Homo sapiens: one gene and its partners. The protein of the gene in region 1 purifies or fractionates together with the protein of each later gene. This does not show direct contact. Each region holds a gene or a part of one and is shown in the gene's direction. Other genes may lie near its edges.

The links.
Region 2: the proteins of ZDHHC11 (region 1) and EFNB1 purify together in Homo sapiens (co-immunoprecipitation; 3 studies listed by BioGRID and IntAct, with this or other methods). This does not show direct contact.
Region 3: the proteins of ZDHHC11 (region 1) and ANKRD13A purify together in Homo sapiens (affinity purification with mass spectrometry; 2 studies listed by BioGRID and IntAct, with this or other methods). This does not show direct contact.
Region 4: the proteins of ZDHHC11 (region 1) and SCAP purify together in Homo sapiens (co-immunoprecipitation; 2 studies listed by BioGRID and IntAct, with this or other methods). This does not show direct contact.

What each region holds. Positions count from the first base shown.
Region 1 is NC_000005.10:833,609-841,526, reverse strand, and holds part of ZDHHC11 (palmitoyltransferase ZDHHC11), read left to right. Parts: exon of another isoform or gene 1-682; coding exon of another isoform or gene 683-724; intron 725-876; coding exon 877-1,032; coding exon of another isoform or gene 1,033-1,108; exon of another isoform or gene 1,109-1,179; coding exon of another isoform or gene 1,180-1,308; exon of another isoform or gene 1,309-1,445; coding exon of another isoform or gene 1,446-1,555; exon of another isoform or gene 1,556-2,085; intron 2,086-2,988; coding exon of another isoform or gene 2,989-3,022; exon of another isoform or gene 3,023-4,046; coding exon 4,047-4,162; intron 4,163-7,719; coding exon 7,720-7,754; intron 7,755-7,918. UniProt on the Homo sapiens protein: Endoplasmic reticulum-localized palmitoyltransferase that could catalyze the addition of palmitate onto various protein substrates and be involved in a variety of cellular processes.
Region 2 is NC_000023.11:68,839,021-68,842,660, forward strand, and holds the end of EFNB1 (ephrin-B1 precursor), read left to right. Parts: intron 1-643; coding exon 644-736; intron 737-939; coding exon 940-1,068; intron 1,069-1,221; coding exon 1,222-1,634; 3' UTR 1,635-3,140; downstream 3,141-3,640. UniProt on the Homo sapiens protein: Cell surface transmembrane ligand for Eph receptors, a family of receptor tyrosine kinases which are crucial for migration, repulsion and adhesion during neuronal, vascular and epithelial development.
Region 3 is NC_000012.12:110,037,051-110,040,802, forward strand, and holds the end of ANKRD13A (ankyrin repeat domain-containing protein 13A), read left to right. Parts: intron 1-308; coding exon 309-504; 3' UTR 505-2,713; downstream 2,714-3,752. UniProt on the Homo sapiens protein: Ubiquitin-binding protein that specifically recognizes and binds 'Lys-63'-linked ubiquitin. Does not bind 'Lys-48'-linked ubiquitin.
Region 4 is NC_000003.12:47,472,517-47,480,975, reverse strand, and holds the start of SCAP (sterol regulatory element-binding protein cleavage-activating protein), read left to right. Parts: upstream 1-5,034; 5' UTR 5,035-5,177; exon of another isoform or gene 5,178-5,553; intron 5,554-8,459. UniProt on the Homo sapiens protein: Escort protein required for cholesterol as well as lipid homeostasis.

The sequences.
Region 1 (7,918 bases):
GTGACCCTGGCACTAAATAAGGAAGGGATGGGTGCTGTGACCCTGGCACTTAGTGAGGAAGGGGTGGGCACTGTGACCCCGGCACTTAGTGAGGAAGGGGTGGGCACTGTGACCCCGGCACTTAGTGAGGAAGGGGTGGGCACTGTGACCCTGGCACTTAGTGAGGAAGGGGTGGGCACTGTGACCCCGGCACTTAGTAAGGAAGGGGTGGGCACTGTGACCCTGGCACTTAGTAAGGAAGGGGTGGGTGCTGGGGCCCTGGCACTTAGGAAAGGATGGGTGCTGGGGCCCGGCAGAGCCGGCAGGCACTGTGACCCCAGCACTTAGGAAGGGGTGGGTGCTGTGACCCCGGCACTTAGGAAGGGGTGGGCACTGTGACCCTGGCACTAAATAAGGAAGGGATGGGTGCTGTGACCCTGGCACTTAGTGAGGAAGGGGTGGGCACTGTGACCCCGGCACTTAGTGAGGAAGGGGTGGGCACTGTGACCCCGGCACTTAGTGAGGAAGGGGGGTGGGCGCTGTGACCCCGGCACTTAGGAAGGGGTGGGCGCTGTGACCCTGGCTCTTAGTGAGCAAGGGGTGGGCGCTGTGACCCCAGCACTTAGGAAGGGGTGGGCACTGTGACCCCGGCACTTAGTGACAATGTTGGAGCCTCACCTCCCAGATCCATAAAGCAGGGATCATGAAAACCAACCGAAGGCAGCAGGGCCTACGGGGCACTCAGGTAAGGGAGGCGTCCACCTGGGCAGGGAGACATCCCTCGCACTGGCTGTCCCCACACCGCCCCATCCCCAGCACGCTCTGGTCTGTGACGTCCACCTGATGTGGCACCCGTCAGCAGGTGCTGGACACAGTGGCTCTCCCTTGTCTCCCCAGATGTCAAGAATATGAACACGTGGCTGCTGTTCCTCCCCCTGTTCCCGGTGCAGGTGCAGACCCTGATAGTCGTGATCATCGGGATGCTCGTGCTCCTGCTGGACTTTCTTGGCTTGGTGCACCTGGGCCAGCTGCTCATCTTCCACATCTACCTGAGTATGTCCCCCACCCTAAGCCCCCGATCCCCCCAAGGCTGGGTGGTCAGAGCTGCTCATCTTACACCTCTACTTGAGTATGTCCCTAACCCTGAGCCCCCCACGCCTGGGGCCAGAGTCTTTGTCCCCCGTGTGCGCATGTGTTCAGGGTCAGCCTCTCCCAGAAGTGAGATCATGGACAAAAAGGGCAAATCACAGGAAGAAATTAAATCCATGAGGACCCAGCAGGCCCAGCAAGAAGCTGAACTCACGCCGAGACCTGCAGGAGTGGTGCCAGGTGCTTGAAGTAACAAGTTTAAAATGTTCAGAGACAATGGAATGGAATCTATTAGGCAAGAACAGGACATTATGAAATAAGGACAGGTGGACTTCCAAAAACACAAGTAGAAATTCTAACAATGAAATATATTACAGGCAGGTCACCCACTAACCAAACAACTGAAGCGAGAGCTGGTGGTCTTGCTTGGTCTCACAGTGGGCACAGCGGTAGGCGGTCAGTCATGTTGCTGAACGACGGAGGGTAAACTCCCCAGCCCCAAGGAAACCTGTGTTGGAAGTAACAACAACCTCCCTGCTCCTGGCACCAGCCGTTTTGGTCATGGTGGGCCAGCTGCAAAGCGTCTTCCATTCTCTGGGCAGTGGTGGCCCCGAGGCTGTGGCCTCTCAGGGGGTTTCTGTGGACACGGGCAGCAGAGTGTGTCCAGGCCAGCCCCCAAGAATGCCCTGCTCCTGACAGCTTGGCCAACCCCTGGTCAGGGCAGAGGGAGTTGGGTGGGTCAGGCTCTGGGCTCACCTCCATCTCCAGAGCATCCCCTGCCTGCAGTTGTGGCAAGAACGCCCAGCTCAGAATGAACACACCCCACCAAGAGCCTCCTTGTTCATAACCACAGGTTACCCTACAAACCACTGTCCCCACACAACCCTGGGGATGTTTTAAAACACACACCTCTAACGCATATCTTACAGTCACTGTTGTCTTGCCTGAGGGTTGAATTTTTTTTAATGAAAGTGCAATGAAAATCACTGGATTAAATCCTACGGACACAGAGCTGAATGTGCTGTTTTCAGAGTTTTAATTTTGGATGTCAAGGCCAGTGCCTGTATAGAATAGGTGCTTAGGATATGTTTACTGAATGGAATGGAACTAAAGCCTCAGGTGTAACTTCATGGAGACACGCGTCTGCCTTGTAGAATGTTACAGGCTGCCTGTTCCTGAAGCTGAAACCCTTAAGAGTGAGAAGTCATTTGGGCCTCCTTCAAAACTCTCCACCCTTCTTAGAATCAGGAATATTTTTAAAAGTACTTTCTAGAATTATCTAGCAATCTCTCTTATATTTAAATATTTTTGGGTTTACCACCTATGAAGGCTTTTCTGGAGTTTCACTCCACCCAGAATTCATCATCTCTCCTTATCAGGAAATCTCTCACCCTCAGATGCTTAGAGTCAGGGTGAGTCCCCCCACAACAGGAGAATCGGCCGAGGTTGGGCCGAGGCCACATGGTCTCATCCACATGTGCCGCAGATTAAGGGATGCTCAAACTGCCCAGTAATACAAAGTCTGCACTTGTCATTTTTTTCCAACTTTGTGTACAAAATGTTTCCCTGGGTTAAAATAGTCAATGCCCACTGTGTGCTGAGCACGTGGGGTGCTGCAGGCCCTTGTGCTGCAGAGAAGCTGGCCCTTGCCTCAGGCGGCAGAGCAGGGAAGTGCAGTGGGCCTGAAGCCATGCGGGGCTGGGAGGGATGACCTGGTCTGTCCTCTGAGCCAGGCACTGCACTTGGAATGGGCTTCTTGAACGCAAAGCCCAGACCAAGTGTGGCAGAAACATGAAAGGACAGGCAGTCGGCTGCTGTGGGCGGGAGGCAGGACGCCCAGGCCTGTCCCCACCCCCGTGACCCAGAGCCTCCCTGGGCAGTGACTCCAGGATGTCCAGGAGCTTCTTCTCTACCTCACAGGACTGGAGAGGCTGTGGTGAGACGCATCCTGTGAAGGCTGGGCTGGCCACAGGCAGCTCCCCAGGGCGCCCACCGCCATCTGCTCCTCACTGCAAATAGGCCTCTGTGGGCGGCCGCCCCAGTCTCCAGAAATAGTCACAAGACATCGGCTCTCACGGTGTTGGTGTTTAGGGAAAGAAGCATGGAGAGTTTGGCCCCTCCATGGAAGCTCGTGGCTGAAATAGGTGCAGAGCCCATTTTATTAACGTTTGTTAAGACGGCTCTTTTAGATAAACGGGTGTATCAGGTTTTGCTTTGCTTCCCTGGGCTGCTTTGCTGCCTGCAGGACAGGCCAGGTGGGTAGGGCTCTGGCCAGCCTGCTGAGCTGTCCTGTGGGCACTGTGCAGGGCTGCAGGGATGGTGACCTGTCTCAGCCCCATCAGAGGCTGTGCTGAGTGGCACTCACAGCACTCGTGTTCACCTCCTGGGCCTGGGGCTCTCAGCACGCTCAGGAGTGTGTGGTCCCAGGACCCGCTAGCCAGCACCTCGGGGTGGCCGCCCCACTGCGTGGTCCTCCGACTGTGGGGTCTCTGTGCATCCCCCAAGGTGCGCCCCACCCAGTGTCCAGATGTGGGGAACCCCACAGGCCATCTGGACCCTCAGACAGAGCGGCCCCTCCTGAGCTGGTCTCTTACCCCTGCCAGCGATCCCAGGGGATCTGGAGCAACCTCTCAAGCTGCATGGTATAGGGGACCCAGGTCTGTGAGAGACAGCTCATCTCTGACACCACTAACAATGCAGCTCAATGAGGCCGTGGCAGGCGGCAGGGGCGTGGGTCAGCACTGTTCCCCAGGTCGCAGCTGCAGACCCCTCCTGCTGACCATCAGCTAGCTGCAGAACTGGGCCCACAAGGCACCTGCACTCATCCTGACCTCACAGGGCCTGCATGGTGGGCGGAGCAGTTCTCCCTGTGCAGGGGCCGGATCAGTGGCACTGGCCACTCTGCTGAGCTGTCCTGTGGGCGCCGTGCAAAGCCGCAGGGCTGGTATCTTGTCCTGTTCCTCCTTTTCCCTTTCCAGAGGCCAAGAAGATGACCACCTTTGAGTATCTCATTAATAACCGCAAAGAAGAGAGTTCAAAACATCAAGCAGTGAGGAAAGATCCATACGTGCAAATGGACAAAGGAGTTCTCCAGGTACCACCTGTCTCTCTGCTCCATTTCTCCAGGCCTGGGACAATGTCTAAGGTCACTCGGTGGTTGGGACCTCTCAGCCATGCTCCTTTACTTCAGGGCCGATGCAGCCCATGGACTCTGCTGTGTGTGTGTCTGTGTGTGAGGCTCTGTGCATGGGTGTGTCTATGTGTCTTTGTGAACATAAACACCAGTCATGCACCACGGACTTCCTAGTGCAAAGATAGGAAAGGAACTGAGTCTCCTGGACATTTCTATACTGCACGATACATCTTCCAAAGTTGAAATGTGCTTTTTGCATCTTTTTTTTTGAGACAGAGTCTCGCTCTGTTGCCCAGGGTGGAGTGAAGTGGTGAAATCTCAGCTCATTGTAGCCTCCACCTCCTGGGTTCAAACAGTTTGCCTACCTCAGCCTCCCAAGTAGCTGGGATCACAGATGTATGCCACTACGCCCGACTAATTTTTGTATTTTTAGTAGAGATGTGGTTTTAACACGCCAGGCTGGTCTCAAACTTCTGGCCTCAGGTGATCCGCCCGCCTTGGCCTCCGAAAGTGCTGGGATTACAAGCATGAGTCACTGTACCTGGCCTGAAACATGATTTTTAACTTAAGGAAGTTAGTTCCCTTTCCGGTTAAGTGACATGAATTATTATAACTAACTCAAGAAGACATAGAAAGTCTAAATAGACATAGAACAGCCAAGAGACTAAACTACTAATTTAAAATCTCCCAGTGAAGAAAAATCCCAGGCCCTGTAGTCTTCATGCATGAATTCCAGCAAAGATTTAAAGAAAAAATACAATACAACCTACACACAGACTCTTTCAGAAAACAGAGAAGGAAGCAACACTTCCCAACTCATTCAGCAATGCCACTATCAACCTGACACCAAACCAGATATTCATAAGCCAGTACATTCAGGAAACACAGGCAGAGATCACTGATAAGACCTTGGGAAACCAAATCGAGCAGCACGGGGCAGGAATGTGCACTGTGGCCAAGTGATATCACTCCAGGGGTAAGCAGTGGCTTAAGGCCTAGGAATCAATTACTACAGCTCAGCACGTTAGTCCAATAGAGAACGGTAACCACGCAATCATGCCAATCAATGCAGAAAAGGGTTTGTTAACAGCAAGTTCCCATTCATGATTTTTAACAAATCTCAGTGACCTAGGAATGATAGGAAAGCACCCTGTGTACCTGACGTGACATTTACTGGTGAAAGGCTTGTGACCCTCTCTTGGAGGCTGGGCACAGGTGATGACGCCCTTTCCTCCTACTTCTGATATCACAGTCACATTCTGGCCAGCCCAGCATAGCAGGGAAAATGAAGGCACAGAGAATACAAAATAAAACTGTGTTTATTTGCAGACAATGAAACCTAAAAAGTATGTTTTAAGACCTAGTTAAGATAATTAAATCACTTAACAAGGATGTGGGGCACATATTAAAATACACGCTCGCACATCTCTATCCACCAGCAATGAAAAATCCGGGTTATATTTTTAAAACTTCCTTTCATAGTCTAATAAAAAAAGAATAAATTTGACAAACCTTATGCAAATATGTACACTGAAAGCTACACACCATGACTGAGAGAAGTCAGAGACGCTCTATTAAGTGAAAAGGTGTACAGCATTCATAGATTGGAAAAAAATACTATTAAAAGGGCAATTTTCCCCAAAACTTATCTACAGATTTACCACAATCCCTGCTGAACCCCAGCAGGCTTCTGTTTTAGCAGAAATGACAAGGTGGTCCTAAAATGTATATGCAAATTCAAAAGACCTAGGCTACTGTACTAGCCAAATGATTTTGAGAAAAAATAAAATTGGAGAACTTACACAACCAGACTTTAAATGTTACTATAAAGCTGTAGCACTAAAGACAGGTGGCGCTGACAGAGAGAGAGACATAAAGCTACAGTAATAAAAACAGTGTGGCACCGACAGAGACAGATATAGAGAAATGGACCAGAAGAAAGGTCCAAAGTTAAAGCTTTCATTTATGGTCAATTGACTTTAAATAATGGTACTAAAATCATTAAATAGGGAGAAATTATAGTTCAACAAGTGGTACTAGAACAATTGGATATCCACATGGAAAAGAAAAAAGAATGATTGAGTTCTTCATACCTGTACAAAGATTACCCAGGATCACTTCATTCGCCACGGAAGAATTAGCCCCAAATCCATCTGACACCTAAACTTAAAAGCTGAACATAGAACACTTCTAGAAACAAGCATAGAATGAAATCTCTGTGATCTTTAGTGAGACAAAGCTTGTCTTTGATCTGACACCAAAATCACTGCCTATTAAAGAAAAAAATCATAGTTTGGACTTTACCAAAATTGAAAATATTTGCTCTTCAAAAGTCACCATTAAGAAAATAAAAATACAGGCACACATGAGAGATACTGCAGGTTTGGTTTTAGAAAGCCACAATAAAGTAAACATGTCAGTAAAACAAGTCACATGAATTTCTGGTTTCCCAGTGCTTATAAAAGTTACGTTTACATGACGTGTGCAACAGCATTATGTCTAAAAACTATGTGTCTGAATTAAAAGTGCTTTATTGCTAAAAGCTGCTTACACAGACAATTGAAGTGAGCACACACTGCGGGGAAAATGGCGCCGACATACTTGCTTGACCAGGGTCACCACAAACCCTCAATTTGTGAAAAAACACAGTATCTGTGAAGTGCAGTAAAGCAATGCACAATAAAGCCAGGTGTTCATTCCTGTGCAAGCCACAGGCAAACAAAATATTTTCAAGTCTTAGACTGATGTCCAGAATACACAAAGACACAAAGAGCTTTCAAAGTGCAATTGTAAAAAAACAACAAACAAAAACATAAACAAACAGAAAACTCAGTTTTTCAAATGGGCAAGAGGGCTGGACACAATGGGAAGCACCTATAATCTCAGTGCTTTGGGAGGCCAAGCAAGAGGATTGCTTGAGGCCAGGAGTTCAAGACCAGCCTGAGCATCTCTACAAAAATAAATAAAAATACATACATACATATAAAAAATGGGCAAAAGATTTGAACAAACTCCTTACCAAGGTAGATGTAGATGTATAGATATATGGATGCCACATAAGCACATGGAAAAAAATGCTCAACATCATTCTACATCAGGCAGCTGCAAATAAAAACCACAATCAGATACTACCACACACCCAGGAGAATGCTTGTCATCAACAAGACAGACACCACCGAGGGTTGGTGAAGTTGTAGAGAAATTGCAAGTCTCCTGCGTTTTTTTGCTAGTGGGAGTTAAATGAGGGTGTAAAGTGCCACCACACTGGAAAGCAGTTTGGCATTTCTTTAAAAGATAAATGTCTAATACATGACCAGAATCCCACTCCCAGTTTCTCACCAGAGAGAAATGAAAACACGTGCACACGTAAGTGGTTCTGAGATCTGAACTCAGGACCCAAGAGAACTCCAGGTACCATTCCTCAAAACCCAGGAATAATAGACGTCACTTTTATGTAAGAATCAGCTGCATGTCAACAACTTCTTTTTTCATGTGACGAATTTTCTTTTGCCCCACAGCAAGGAGCTGGCGCCCTGGGCTCATCTGCACAGGGGTAAGTTGCAAGCTTCCTGCAGTAGCTTGGTCCTTCTGAAGAATAGCTGTATTCTTTTCTTAACTCAAATGACTTTGGAAAATAATTCACCTATGATGAGACATTTTGAAATCATGGGATGATGCAGTAGAAGATAAAATAGTTTTGTTTAATGTTGTTAAATT
Region 2 (3,640 bases), on another chromosome or scaffold:
CCCTTTGAAGACTGGCATGTTCTCCTCTTAGCCTGGCCTTGGAATTCTCGCCCCAACATTTACCAAGCTCACCTTGGCTCCAGGGGTTGGGCAGGAGAGGTCTCCAATTCGTGTTGCTTCTCTCTTATTTTCTTTGCCCACCTAAGTTCTAATATTGGGAATGGTAACATATGCCAGGCCCTTTGGGATCAGCCAGCTATTCAGCCTTTTTCTTCAGGGGAAACCAAGGCCCCAAAAGGTGAAGGGACTTCTTGCCTTAGATCACACAGTGAGTTAGAGATAGGGTCAGGACTCCAACCCAGTTCTCCTGATTCCTACTCCAGAATTCCTTTCAGTCTATGTAGAAGCCCCCATTATGATCCCAGTGAGGAGGCAGACCTTACCGAGGGGCCATGGCCTGCTCGTGACAGAGGAGCAGTGCCCCTGGGGGTGGGGCTTGTTCTTGGCCTGGGCTGGACTAGGCCATTTTGTTCCTAGTGGGAGGGAAGAAAATGAAAAGGTTCACTGGTAGATGGGAGCTGCTTGCTTCTCCCGACTGCAGTTTCTCTCCCTGTTGGCTGAAGCAGAATGGGAGTTTCTGGGTAATGCTAGTAGACCTTTCTCTCCTCCTGACTTCTCTGACTTCTCTGGCCTCTTCCTGCAGCAACATCCAATGGAAGCCTGGAGGGGCTGGAAAACCGGGAGGGCGGTGTGTGCCGCACACGCACCATGAAGATCATCATGAAGGTTGGGCAAGGTGAGTGCCTAGTCTGAGGGTCCCCTCACCCCACCCTGTTTGACCTTTGGAACAGATGTTCCTGGCTGGGTGCATGTGTATTAGGAGTGGGGGAGCAGGCGTAGGGTTACAGTATCCAGGCCATTCTTGGCCCACCCTTGATGACTGAGGGCACCTATGCTGGCCGGGTCCCTGCCTCTCACCTGTTCTGTCTCCATTCTTAGATCCCAATGCTGTGACGCCTGAGCAGCTGACTACCAGCAGGCCCAGCAAGGAGGCAGACAACACTGTCAAGATGGCCACACAGGCCCCTGGTAGTCGGGGCTCCCTGGGTGACTCTGATGGCAAGCATGGTAAGTGTATGTGTTTCCCAGAGGTCAGGAGCCATTGCTCTGTCACCTTGTTAGGCCCTGTCCCTGAAGAAATGCAAGCTGGGCCTGGCCTGAAATCTGCTGTGTGTCCCTGGGACCCCTGGCTGACTGTTCCTTCCCCTTTCCCTTCCTCAGAGACTGTGAACCAGGAAGAGAAGAGTGGCCCAGGTGCAAGTGGGGGCAGCAGCGGGGACCCTGATGGCTTCTTCAACTCCAAGGTGGCATTGTTCGCGGCTGTCGGTGCCGGTTGCGTCATCTTCCTGCTCATCATCATCTTCCTGACGGTCCTACTACTGAAGCTACGCAAGCGGCACCGCAAGCACACACAGCAGCGGGCGGCTGCCCTCTCGCTCAGTACCCTGGCCAGTCCCAAGGGGGGCAGTGGCACAGCGGGCACCGAGCCCAGCGACATCATCATTCCCTTACGGACTACAGAGAACAACTACTGCCCCCACTATGAGAAGGTGAGTGGGGACTACGGGCACCCTGTCTACATCGTCCAAGAGATGCCGCCCCAGAGCCCGGCGAACATCTACTACAAGGTCTGAGTGCCCGGCACGGCCTCAGGCCCCCGAGGGACAGTCGGCCTGGACCGGACCTCTCCTTTCGCCCCCACACCCCCTCCCCTTGCCAGCTGTGCCCACCTTTGTATTTAGTTTTGTAGTTTCTTGGCTTTTATAATCCCCCTTTTTCCCTGCCCCCTGGGCTTCGGAGGGGGGTGCTTGTGCCCCTAACCCCCATGCTCTTGTGCCTTCCCCCTCTGGCCAGGCCTCTGGGCTCCGTGGGGGCGCCCCTTCTTGGAAGGCAGGGCTGGACACTGATGGACAGCAGGCAGGGAGACAGTCCCCTGGCCCTGCCCCTCCCTCGCCCCCCTTGCCACCTTCCCAGGACTGCTTGTCCGCTATCATCACTGTTTTTAATGCTTTTGTGTTCATTTTTTAGCTGTCAACTCATTTTCATCTGTTTTTTGAAGAAAAATGGAAAAATGTAAAAGGCAGCCCCTCCCCAGGCTTTGTGAGCCTGGCCCAAGCCAGTACAAGAGGGCCTGGGGCACGATGTGGTCAGCCAGGAAGCATAGGATGCCATTTCTTTTATAGATTCCTTGGTATTTCTGGTGGGGTAAGGGGCAGGCCAGGGCTGTTCACGCCCATGAGGGAAGAGGAAAGTGCCACTGGGCAAGGTGTCCCACCCTCCCCTCCTGACCCTCCTACGAGGCTTATCCTGGCAATGGGGTAGTCACTGCCACCCTTCCACACACACACACACACACACACACACAAAAAAAAATCCCTTCCTTGTGGGATTCTTGGGCATCTCCTGCCTCCCTCACTCTCACGGTAATTAATGTCTTAATTGGCTGTTGCCTGGGGAACAGGAGAGCTGCTGCAGGCAGATGACCTCATGGGGGGTGGAGGGAGGTGAGGTGCCCAGGTGGCTATTTGCCCTGCAGAGCTGGGAGTTTCACCCCCACCCCCCACCCTGTTCTCTCCTTACCTTTGGCATCCTTTGGCCTGGTGGGGAAACAGAGGCCCAGGGTGGAGACCTAAGCGGGTATAAGACCAGGTGGCCTGCTCCTTTTCTGGGCCCTAGCACAGGTGGGTAACCCCCACCCAACCCAGCTCCTGCTGCTGTCCCAGTCTTGGGCTGGGGCCTGGAAAGAGGAAGAGGCTGCCTGGGGCTGGGCCAGCCCGCTGTGCACTTTGACCCCAGTTCCTTGCCAGCACGGCTGCTAACAGACTGCCACTTGAGTGCGCCTTGCAGGCACTCCCAGAGCAGCCATGGAAGGAGCTGGCCCTCACACCATCCACCTCCACACTGCCTCCTGGCCAGCTGCCCACCCCAGTGCCAGGTGGGAGAGGGAGCAGAACAGCCAGCCCCTTCCAGGTGGCAGTCGGAAGGGTTTTTGTTTTTGTTTCTGTTGCCATTTGTGTAAATACTAGTCTTTTTGGAAAAAAAATAATGTAAAGATGTTTTGTATAAACTCTGAATTATTTTCTTGTTGCTTTTTTCTTAGAAAAAAATGAGAACTAAAAAAAAAAAATTAACCACATGGAGAAATGGGTGTAAAATGGTGTCGTGATGTTGGGAAATGGAGAGTGAGAGTTGTGTGCGTGCGTGTGTGGTGGGGGTGTGTGTGTGTGCGCTTTCCTGTGCTCAAACCACTGGTGACTGGGGCAGGTACGGGCAGATGATGGCTATCCTAGTGGAGCAAGATGTTTTAATGCCCTATGACCCTCCTGCCACTCCCCTCACCCCAGGTTTTTCTGCTCTCTTGTTCTGCTGTCATGGAGCCTGAGACCATTTCCCCTGTTCATCCTGTCACCTCTGTGGCATAGGCCACGGGCATCTGCCCAGTCTGGCACAGGCCCAGTTAGAGAGGGTTAATGGAGGAGGGGATGTTCCCATGGGGACCTGGGTGTGTCCACAAAGTACTGCCACCACCTAGCTGGGGCTAGATCTGGGACCTGCTGGCAGGCCCAGCCCTGCCCTGCCTCAGGACGCCTGGAGGTGGATAGAAATAACTTCCCAAGATCTGAACTTCAGCTGCAGCCTA
Region 3 (3,752 bases), on another chromosome or scaffold:
TTTACGAAGACTTATACTTAAGGTGTCTATGAGAGCCTGTTGATGAAGAACCTGAGTTTTGCTTTAAAACAGATCCAAGTTCAATTCCCAGCCCTATCACTTACTGGTTGGGTGGTCTTGGGCAAGATTGTGGGGTTTCTCACCCGTATACAACACCTACACCGCCAGTTATGTGGGATTAATTGGCATCATGCATATTAAATGCCTGGCACAGTGTGCCCTTGGTAAGCGGTTAAGAAATGTAGTTACTGCTGCCACCATGATGATGATAGTAGTGACTCTCCCTTTTTATCTGTTTTCCAACCCAGGGCCATCCAGGAGAGCCTCCTCACCAGCACAGAAGGCCTGTGCCCCAGCGCCCTGAGCGAGACAAGCCGTTTTGATAATGACTTGCAGCTAGCCATGGAGCTCTCTGCCAAAGAGCTGGAGGAATGGGAGCTCCGGCTCCAGGAGGAAGAGGCTGAGCTCCAGCAAGTCTTACAGCTGTCACTCACTGACAAATAGACCTTTCAGCCTGTGAGCCTCTGCACAAAGCAGAGGCTGTGGGCTGTCACAGATGCTGTGTCAACCAGGGCCCTAGGGCTAAGGGCCTGCACCTTGCGTGCATGCAGCAGGCAACAACTGCCCCTTCTTTATGCAGAGGTGCAGAACCAGGGACTCCTGGGCCCATCCAGGCTGCTCCCTGGGGTGGAGAAGGGACCAGGGATTGCAGGCCCCATCTCCAGGCTAAGGGGAGGAGAGCATCATCACTTTCCATTAGCTGTATTGGCTTGCAGGTCACATTTTTACTACCAGCTTTAGACAAAACCCCAATCCCCGCAGGTTTGTAGATAAATTTTTATCAAGGAGTGATAACAAGACAAGTTATTGCAGAGTCAGGGTGCTTTTATATATAAGAGCAGCAGCCGCCTTTGTAAAGTGTGATCTATGAGAATTGGAGACACTTCTTTACTGTTCACCAAAGAAATGGGTAATCTGTGCTGATCTCCTTATTTTTACCTTTTTACAGGGTTTCTAGGACATTGTCATTATTCTTCCTCCATCTATCTGATTCCATTCCTTCCACACCCAGCTAAAGTTAGAGGAGATACATATAGAATCTATTTTAGATTATTGTTAACTATTTGCATCAAATTAAGATACACAAATGGCCATGGATGTTGCCTTAGCCTTAAACATTACTAATAGTTTCACATCACCTCACTGCACGCATCGAAGGATCTGATTTGAATTTGTAAAGGCAATTCTTTTGAGAGCAGGATTCTCCAGGCTAAATCAAAGGCAGCTAATCCTGTCCCTGAAGGAGCAGCTAGGGGAACCTGAGGCTTGTTCTTGAAGTGGGCAAGCTGGCCAAAATATTGGAACACACAGAACCAAACCAGGTGTGTTCTACACCTGCATGAGTGAAGGATTTCCACGTAGACACCTAGGAAGAGCCCGCATGCCCTAGACTCACTCCAGAGGAAGGATTGATTTGCAACCAGAAAGGGAGCTGAAAACCACGGAGCTCCATGGCTCTTCATTCAAAAGGGAAAATAATGATTCCACGTTGCTTTTTAGAGTTCAAATCAACATCTTTCTGGATAAATCTATTTTTTAACAATCTTTTTATTATTTGTAAAAGATATAAAAACAACTCCCATCAGTAGCAATACAAGGTTATACATTTTAACCAGATTTTCTCAGGCCTTTTTTGGATACCTTTAGTAGTTAACTCTCTTTTGTCAAACCCTCTTGTATATAACCATCGCACAACATACAGAACCCTGGGGAATACAGCCAAGGGCACTGCTCACTGTGGCCCGTGTATTCATTCCCACAGGCTGCACTGAAATAACCTGGTAAACAACACCCTCCTCCATTTTGCGTCTATTTCTTCTATTGTGCTTCTTTGGGGATAGGAAGAGAAACATAACTACTGTTCCAGGTAACGTCTGTATCATACAGTTAGTGTTGCCAGTGAAACGTTCCCAGATACAAAGAATTGTGCTTTTAATTCCATTTCACAATCTGTTTTGTTTTTTTTTTTTGTCATTGTCTGACCAAAATTCCTTCTGCACATGAGGCCAGTATAGGCAACGTCACATTTGTTTGTTTCAAATATGCAGTGTGGTATTTTGTTTACTTTGCATTTACCGTGAGCAAAGATACTTCTTGGAATGGCTGCAGTGAGGCCGTGTCATTGGCTCACAAAAGTGACTCATAGGTAATTTCTGTGTTTGCATTCCACTGCTCTGCTCCCTAAGGTCCTTGACTTTCTCCCCAGGAATTCACTTAAAAAGGGACTGAGCATTGTGTCAACCTGTTGCAGTGTTTTTCATATATGTGTTCACTCTAAAAATGCAAATAAAGACTGCTTCCTTAGAGGGTGCTCATACAAAATTCCAGTCTTTGAGTCTTTTTCCTTTTCAGTTTTTTCTAGTCACTGGATGTACCCACACTTCCTGTTACGTATGTCAGTAGAACATTAGAATGCCTCACTTCGCTCAGTTCATCACTGCAAAGGTGGCATGCTCCTCCCAGCCTTCCTGCCCAGGTTAACAAGCCCCATGCTGCTTGTTTCAAATGGCAACTAAAAGCAAGCCAGTGTTGGGCTGTTCTGACACCTCTGTGGTCCTCCTGGAGGGGAACTGGCTCTTGTGGGGTAAGGGAAGCCCAGCCAACATCAAAGCTCTGCATCAATGCTATCCCTTGAAGCCAACTGCTTTGTGAGGCTGTTCCTAGAAGTCCAGATGATAAGGCTTCCAAACTCTTCCTATATCTAAATAAGCGGGTATTAAAAACAACAAAGGCAGTGGCCAGTAGAAATGTATGGGTTCCAGAAATGAGGCTGTATTTCTGGGAAGATGTAAAGGAGCTGCTTTGCTTTTAGGGGAAAGTAGATATCAATACTTTGAAGCCACAAGGACACTATGAAGAAAACCATTACTCTTTCAGGTCAAGAGGTGCAATGACTATGGATTATTTAAAAACTGAAAAGCTAAGCTTGAGTGGCCCAATATCAGCAGGAAGTGGTTTTTTTTTTTTGTTTGTTTGTTTTCCTGAGACGGAGTTTTGCTCTTGTTGCCCAGGCTGGAGTGCAATGGCGCGATCTTGGCTCACTGCAACCTCTGCCTCCCGGGTTCAAACGATTCTCCTGCCTCAGCCTCCCGAGTAGCTGGGATTACAGGCGTGTGCCACCATGCCTGGCTTATTTTTGTATTTTTAGTAGAGACGGGGTTTCACCATGTTGGCCAGGCTGGTCTCGAACTCCTGACCTCAGGTGATCCACCCGCCTCGGCCTCCCAAAGTGCTGAGACTACAGGCATGAGCCACCGCACTCGGCCAGAAACTTTAATTGAGCAACTTCTGCACGTTAGACACTGCTAGGAACTAAGTTCCTAAGGCACTCTGCTCTATAAACAAGCTTGTCACACTACATAAACGTGGCATGTCAAGGGATTGAAAGTCTGCTCTAAATAATGACAGGAAAGGGAAACTGCCATAACTGCCAGCTTGGTCGCAGTCTCCTGCTGACCACAAATGACATCAAGGAAGATGAACTGGATGTGGAGATTTCAAGTGATTCAGTGGTACAGTGAGTGATGAAGTTCAAAGTACCACCTAGGCCTCTGTTTAGAAATATGTGTAGGTTTAAGCCTGAGGTCCAGGTGGAAAAAAATACAACATGCTGATATGACTCCACAGTCACTAAATCATAGGCAGCACTAGGAGACTTTTATCTCAACTTTAGGCCAGGCGCAGTGGCTCAC
Region 4 (8,459 bases), on another chromosome or scaffold:
CATCGTGCCCGGCCTGAATTCACCTTTCTTATGGGGAACAATCTGAAGTAAAGTTGAGCTCTACCTAGTTAGGGCTAAATGGAACTGTTCCATTTGATTTACTATATATAAAAACTAAAATCAGGTTTCTGCAACTTAACTGGAAGTGCATCAAAAATAAGATAGGGGCTGGGTATGGTGGCTCACACCTATAATCCTAGCACTTGTGGAGGCCAAGATGGGAGAGTTGCCTGAGGCCAAGAGTTCAAGACCAGCCTGGGCAACAGAGAGACCCTCATCTCTATTTAAAAAACTCTGAAATTTAGCTGGGAGTGGTCATACCCACCTGTGGTCCCAGCTACTTGGGAAGCTTGCTTGAGCCCAGGAGGTCAAGGCTGCAGTGAGCTGTGATTGTGCCACCGCATTCCAGCCTGGACCATAGAGCAATACCCTATCTCTTAAAATAAAGGATTGATACGAAATCACCTTTGCAAAATTATGGCAGTAAGAAAAACCTGACATGGTTGACTCCATGTTGCTTCCTTTTCTTTTTCTTTTTTTTCTCTCAGCGTGTTGCTCTTGTTGCCCAGGCTGGAGTGCAATGGCACGATCTCGGCTCACCACAACTTCTGCCTCCCAGGTTCAAGCTATTCTCCTGCCTCAGTCTCCTGAGTAGCTGGGATTACAGGCATGCGCCACCACACCTGGCTAATTTTGTATTTTTAGTAGAGACAGGGTTTCTCCATGTTGGTCAGGCTGGTCTCGAACTCCTGCTCAGGTGATCTGCCTGCCTCGGCCTCCCAAAATGCTGGGATTACAGGAGTGAACCACCGTGCCCAGCTCTATCTTGCTTCTAACCTCCAACCTGGGGATAGGCGAAGGTAACTTTGGGAGGAATTTATAGTTCAACCTTAAAGCAAGGATGACATTAGCCCTCTCCAAAACTAAACCGCCTTTGTAAAACTAATGAAAAGCCACAAGTCTAGGATTTTTATAGGAGGGGCCTGAATTCTGCTAAGGTGTAGGTGTAGTTAAATGATAACCAGTCATTGCTCTGGAAGTCACAAGATTTGTAACTTCCTCAGTTACTCCTATAGATAACATCACTATTGTAGAACCTAAGACTTGCCTTTTGAGATGTTTCTTTTCTTTCTTTCTTTCTTTCTTTCTTTTTTTTTTTTTTTTTTTTTTGAGACAGAGTCTCGTTCTGTTGCCCAGGCTAGAGTGCAGCGGCATGATCTCGGCTCACTGCAAGCTCCGCCTCCTGGGTTCATGCTATTCTCCTGCCTCAGCCCCCAGAGTAGCTGGGACTACAGGTGCCCGCCACCACACCCGGCTAATTTTTTGTATATTTAGTAGAGGCGGGGTTTCACCGTGTTAGCTAGGAAGGTCTCGATCTCCTGATCTCGTGATCCACCTGCCTCAGCCTCCCAAAGTGCTGGGATTACAGGCGTGAGCCACCGCGCCCGGCCTTGAGGTGTTTCTTTTCAGACTTTTGCATTTCTGCTGACTCCACCCAGAGGCTGACTCAGCGCTTGAGGACTCCTCCTATGATTGCATCCCCAACCAATCAACATTTCCCATTCCCTAGCACCCTGCCTACCAAACTATCCTTGAAAAACCCTGACCTCTAAGCCTTTGGGGAGACTGATTTGAGTAACAGCTCCATCTTCTGCGTGGCCTTGTGCATCGCCAGCCTTGCGTCAGTGAAACTCTTTACTGCAATGCCAAGGCCTCAGTGAATTGATTTTGTCTGCGCAGTGGGCAAGAAGAACCCTTGGGCAATTACAGATAGATGAATAAAAGGATAGATTTTTTTAGATAGACATGAGATACTAAGCAAAACATTAATAGTTGAATCTAGGGTATATGAGTGTTCACTCTATGGTTCTTTCAACTTTTCTGTTATGTTTTCATATTAAATGTTGTAGGAGGCTGGGCATGGTGGGTCATACCTGTAATCCCGGGATTACAGCGGGTGGATCGATTGGGCCCAGGAGTTCGAGACCAGCCTGGGCAACATGGCAAAAACCTCGTCTCTACTAAAAATACAAAAATAAACCTGGCGCGATGGCGCAAGCCTGTAGTCCCAGCTACTCAAGAGGTTGAGGCACGGGAATCGCTGGAACCTGAGAGGTGGAGGTTGCAGTGAGCCAAGATTGTGCCACTGTGCTCCAGCCTGGGTGACAGAGACTTGGTCTCAAAAAAAAAAAAAAAAGGGCCAGGTGAGGTGGCTCACGCCCGTAATCCCAGCACTTTGAGAGGCTGAGGCGGGTGGATCCCACCTGAGATCAGGAGTTTGAGACAGCCTGGCCAACATGGCGAAACTCTGTCTCTACTAAAAATGCAAAAAAAAATTAGCCAGGCATGGTGGCGCACACCTATAATCCCAGCTACTCAGGAGGCTGAGGTGGGAGAATCACTTGAACCTGGGAGGGGGAGGTTGCTGTGAGCCAACACCTCACCACTGCACTCCAGCCTGGACAACAGAATGAGACTGTGTCTCAAAAAAAAAAAATGTTGTGGGAGAAGCCCAAAAATCATGTCCACTTCATTATATTCCATGGGGGGCATTCTGTAGCAGATTTACCAGGGCCCCATAAACCCCAGCTTCCCCAGAGGCTCCACAGGATTCTCAGTGGGTTCTCTTAGGGCAGTGGAGGATTGTTTGCCATGCTTCAAGGCACAAAGGTACTTAGCTAGGTGCTTGTCAGTTTTGGAGCCTCTTATTTTTTGTGGGGGAGTGTCCAGACTTCACTGAGGGTCAGTCCTCTGCAAACACAGCTTTGATGGAGTGGTTGGGTGGGAAGAGGTGGTGAGTGAGGAGAATGACAGCAGTTCCCAAGGCAGTCTGGCTAAGTCCTGCCATGGAGGTGGTTAAAAGACAGGCTCCTGACCCTCTCTGGAGAGAAGACTTTGGTACAGTGGGCCCAGGGCTCAGGAGGACTCCTTCATGCCCAAGGTTTCTGAGGGGACAAATGATGGTATTTCAAGGGATCAGACCTGGAGAGAGTGATGTCAGGATAGGTAAGGGGTGTAGGTAAGTTCCCCTGAATGCTCTCTATTGTTGCTTCTCTCTCATTTAATACAACAAACAGGATGGGCACGGTGGCTCATGCCTGTAATCCTAGCAGTTTGGGAGGCCAACATGGGAAGGCTGCTTGAGCCCAGGAGTTTGAGACCAGCCTGGGCAACACAGCAAAAGACCCCATCTTGATAAAAATAACAAAAACAAAAATGGCATGGTGGCGCTCATCTGTAGTCCTACCTTCTTGGGAGGATCACTTGAGCCCAGGAGGTTGAGGCTGCAGTGAGCTATGACCACACCACTGCACTCCAGCCTGGGTAAAGGAGTGAGACCTCAAATGTAAAAATAAAAATAACCTAAAAAATTCTTTCTTTCTTTTTTTTTTTCTTTTTTTTTTTGAGACGGAGTCTCGCTCTGTCGCCCAAGCTGGAGTGCAGTGGCATGATCTCGGCTCACTGCAAGCTCTGCCCCCCGGGTTCATGCCATTCTCCTGCTTCAGCCTCCCGAGTAGCTGGGACTACAGGCACCTGCCACCACGCCCGGCTAATTTTTTTTTTGTTTGTTTTGTATTTTTAGTAGAGATGGGGTTCCACCGTGTTAGCCAGGATGGTTTCGATCTCCTGACCTCATGATCTGCCCGTGTTGGCCTCCCAAAGTGCTGGGATTACAGGCGTGAGCCACCGCGCCCAGCGAATACTTTCTTTATAGGATCAAAATTCCCATATTAAGCCAAAAGACAATGCTGAAAATGTCATAACCCTGAAAGTCACTTTGGGCCAAGGCCCACTGTCCCCATTGTTACTTTCATTGTGACAATAGTGTGGTGGGCAAGGAGGGAGGCCAGAGTCCGGTGGGAACTGGGTTTTAGGAGGAGGTATCTGAAGAATGTGTAGTGGGTCGGGGGCTGGTGCGGTCAGAAGGGCCACCTCTAATTTCTGCCTTGCATTGGTGACTAGATCTGCACTTTCTGGAACTCCCAGAGAAGTTTGCTGGTGCCTTTGAGGGCAGGTACAGGGCCTGCCTTATCCAGGTAGCCCTGGGGTGGGTGCGGGTGTCTCGGGCAGTAGGCAGGGGCTGAGGGGAGGCTTACCTCTGACACAAGACCTGGGTACAGCAAGGGCATGCAGTAGCATGATCAAAGTCCCCCCAGAGTGGTCCGGGCAGCGTCTCTAGTTGGGCCAGAGCTGGGCAGGTGGGGACCTGTGTTTCCCTCGAGGGGAGGCAGCCTCCCCTTCCCCTTCTGTGAGGCCCTGTAACAAGACCTACCTCGGATTTTCAGGAGGGCCAAATGCGAGGACATGTACAATACCAGCTCCGCAACTGACACCTAGTAAACAGTGAACGTAGCTGTTGCTATTATAACAAATACCTGTTCCCTGTGGAAAATGGTTAAATGTCAACTTATGCTTTTAAATGTCTATAGGGAAACTAGTTTTATGGACATTATTTATTCTTCTCATCTGCATTTGCAGTGTATCTCGGCCCAGCTGCTTCTAATTTTTTGCCATTATAAAACAGGGAACATGAGCATCTTGTGCAGGGTGGGTTTTTTGTTTTTTGTCTCACTGTGGCCTCGACCTCCCGGGCTCAGGTGATCCTCCTACCTCAGCCTCCTGAGTAGCTGGGACCACAGGTGCGCGCCACCACAGCCGGCTAATTAATTTTACTTGTGGAGACGGAGGTCTCCTACGTTGCCCAAGTTGGTCTCTAACTCCTCGGCTCAAGCGATCTTCGCGCCTTGGACTCCCACAGTGTTGGGATTACAACCGCGAGCCACCGTGCCCGGCTTTCTGCAAGTTCTTGATGACCGATGAGAGCCGGTGGGCCCAAACCCGGCGGGCCCTAACCCGGCTTCACGCTCCGCCCGGCCCGGCCCGGCCCGGCCGTCCATACTTCCCTCCGGTGTCCACCAGAGGGCGAACGGGAGACGCGAATGTGGTTCGACTACGCATGCGCACGCCGCTGGGCGCACGTGCGGAGGGCGGCGGGGCGGGAGGGTAAAGGTAGGAGGTGAGAGGTGAAGGGGCGGGCACCCGGCGGCCAGGAGAGAGAGGGAGGGCGCCACGCACCGGACTGCGGGCCGAGAGCGCGCACGCCGCGCTCCGCCCCTGCTGCCGCCCCCGTCGCCGCCGCCGCCGCCGCCGCAGCTTGGGAGGTGCTGCCACCACAGGTACCGTCACGCGGGTGCTCAGGGCGCCTGCCCGCGGGCCCCAGCTCGACCCCAGCCGCGTGGAGCTGGGAGTTCCGGAATGGGGGCCGCTAGGTTCGGGGGTGCGTGGGCATGGCGCTGTCCAGCAGCCGTGCGGGCCGGCCCTGGAGACCGCAGGCCGGCAAGGAGGCAGGGCCGCGCGTCCCCACCCCCAACCCGGCCGTGTCCCTGCACCGGCCGGCCCCTGGAGCTCCGCGTCCCCACCAGACCTCCGCGGGCCCCTGGTGTGACGGGGGGAGATGCGCGGCGTCGCATCCCCTGGCCTAGTTGCTCCGGGAAGCTGTTGTAGAACCTGCTTTGGTGCTGTTTGGGTTTTCCGGAGTGCGGGGGAGAGCAGGTTCTCCACTTTGCCTCTTTTGGAAGATCTTATTGAGAGACAACGCTAGTTGCTTTGCTGGTTTTGCTTGGTTTCTAGTTTTCCGTATTGCTTAAACCTCAACTTTGCTCACTAATGTTGCTTCTGTTTACTTCTGAGTGGGTTTATGACCTCAGTATTTAACCGGCTTATAATGTCACGATAGCGTTAGTTGCAGGGAGCCCTGGCTCCGGACTGTTTGAATCACAGAAAGTTGTGCAGATGGGAATGCGGAGGGGGGGGCAGTGAGTCGCTGTGGGGGCTCTGGCAGGGGTCAGCCCCTGGTTCGGGTCACTCACTGCTCCACCTTGTATGGCGACAGTCGGAGCTAGGTGAATAAACTCTTTCTGGGGATTTTGTAATACTTATCGTGAAGCGGCCATAGAAAAGGTTTAATGTTAGCGTTGCGTGTGTTTCTTTTATTTGGCCAAAAATTTGTGGAGTTTGGTTATGCCGTGTCTTTATTGGTTTGCTGTCAGGTCAGGATATTGAGCAAAAGACTGACGCTTTTATTAGGGAGTCAGGGTCGAGGGTGTCTAGTTAGTGCTGTATCCATTTTAGGTGTTCCTCAGTGATGCCTAAAGACTTGTTTTTTGTTTGTTTGTTTGGAGACAGGGTCTCACTCTGTCTCCCAGGCTGGAGTGCAGTGGCGCGATCTCGGCTCACTGCAGCCTTGATTTCCTGGGCTCAGGTGATCCTCCCACCTCAGCCTCCCCAGTAGCTGGGACAGCAGGTGTGTGCCACCACGCCCGGCTAATTTTTGTATTTTTTTGTAGAGATGGGGGTCTTGCTGTGTTGCCCAGGCTGGTCTTTAACTCCTGGGCTCAAGCATTATACAAGCCTTGGCCTCCCAAAGTGTTGGTATTACAGGCGTGAACCACCGTGCCCGGCCAAGACCTGTATCTTTTAAAATGTGTGTTAATATAGTTTACATTTTAGGTGTTTTACACATTTGCAGTATTCCCACTGAGCACATGATGTAAAAAACACTATATAAATATATTTAACACTGTATAAATATATTTCCATATTTATTCTTTTGGTCATAAATTGAAATGGAAAGAATTAGGCTTTTTAAATTTATTATGAACTGATCTGATGTTTGAATGCTCTCTCTTTTCTTTCTTTCTTTTTTTTTTTGAGATGGAGTCTCGCTCTGTCGCCCAGGCTGGAGTGCAGTGGCGCCATCTCGGCTCACTGCACCCTCCGCCTGCCGGGTTCAAGCGATTCTCCTGCCTCAGCCTCCCAAGTAGCTGGGACTACAGGCGCCCGCCACCATGCCCGGCTACTTTTTTGTATTTTTAGTAGAGACGGGGTTTCACCGTGTTAGCCAGGATCGTCTCTATCTCCTGACCTCATGATCCGTCCGCTTCGGCCTCCCAAAGTGCTGGGATTACAGGCGTGAGCCACCGCGCCTGGCTTGAATGCTCTCTCTTTTCTTTTGCTGTTGCGGCAAAAACGCCCCCTCTCTAGAGATCTCCGTGGACTTTATAATCACTGGTTTGGGGCCCTTCCCCCGTTCCCTCAGTCACTGTCATTAGGTGGGTAAAAAGTTTACTACAAGTTTATTACTAGAAAAATGGAGGCATATGCGATTCAGGAATTAAATAAACTAAAAAAGGAAAGAAAAAGTGTGCCTGTGGGCTTCACTGCAGGTATGTATATTAACATTTGGTGGTAGACTTTAGGGATGTTTTCTCTCTCAGAATCTAGCCATGCATGTGAATGTGCCTCAGGGATCCTGGAATGACAGGTTCATGTGCTGTTTGCTTACTCTCACCATTGGTGGTTGCCAGTGTTTTACCGGCTCTGACAGGTACTTCATATACAGTTTGTGTCATCACCCCCGTTGAACAGATGAGAGGACTCCTCATAGAGAAGCTGGGTTCTTACAAGGTCACCCAGCTTGTCAAGGGTGGATCATCCTTCAAACCAGGTCTGCCACACCTCTGCCACCTGAGCTCCTTCCGTTAGAACTTGCTACCTTACTGAGTTGGCTAAAGAAACAAGGTTCAGGTGTCGTCTTTTGCCACTCAGAGTAATAATTCTGGGTGATATCGAGCACTTGTGCTGTTTAGGCAGTGTCCTAGGTACTGTAATATTAGCTTATCTCACTTAGTTTTCATAATAACCAGGTGAGATAACACTGTTATCACCCCCTTTACGGAGAGTTTTAGAAAAGTTATTTGACTGGCCCTGGGTCACCTAGCGAATTTGAGACGGAGTGTGTTGTGTGCAAACTGAGATTTGGCTGACAAAAGAGTCCATCCTTTTATGCTGTTCTTGTACCTGCTTCCACAGTCTGTTTTTTTTTTTTTTTTTTTGAGATGGAGTTTCGCTCTTCTTGCCCAGGCTGGAGTGCAATGGCGTGATCTCAGCTCACTGCAACCTCCGCCTCCCAGGTTCAAGCGATTCTCCTGCCTCAGCCTCCTGAGTAGCTGGGATTACAGGCATGCACTACCACGCCTGGCTAATTTTGTATTTTTAGTAGAGGCGAGGTTTCTCCCTATTGGTCAGGCTGGTCTCAGACTCCCGATCTCAGGTGATCCGCCCGCCTCGGCCTCCCAAAGTGCTGGGATTACAGGCGTGAGCCACTGCACGCAGCCCACAGTCTTTTCTGTTGCTCATTGGCAGGTAAGGGTAGTGGAAGAAGGTGGTAGGGGTGGTGGGAGGAAGCCAGCGTCACTGACTCTAGTGTGGGGATGGTGGAACTCAGCAAGAAGGTGACAGCAATTTGACCACTGCCATTTGACAGTTTCTGCTTAAGCAGTCAAGGGCACTAACCTAGAATGGTTGCAGGGATGCTAAATCATAAGGAAGCTTTGCAGTGGGGTCCAAAGTTGGTATGTAAGCATAAAGATGCACGTGGATCTCAGGAAAAAAATAAA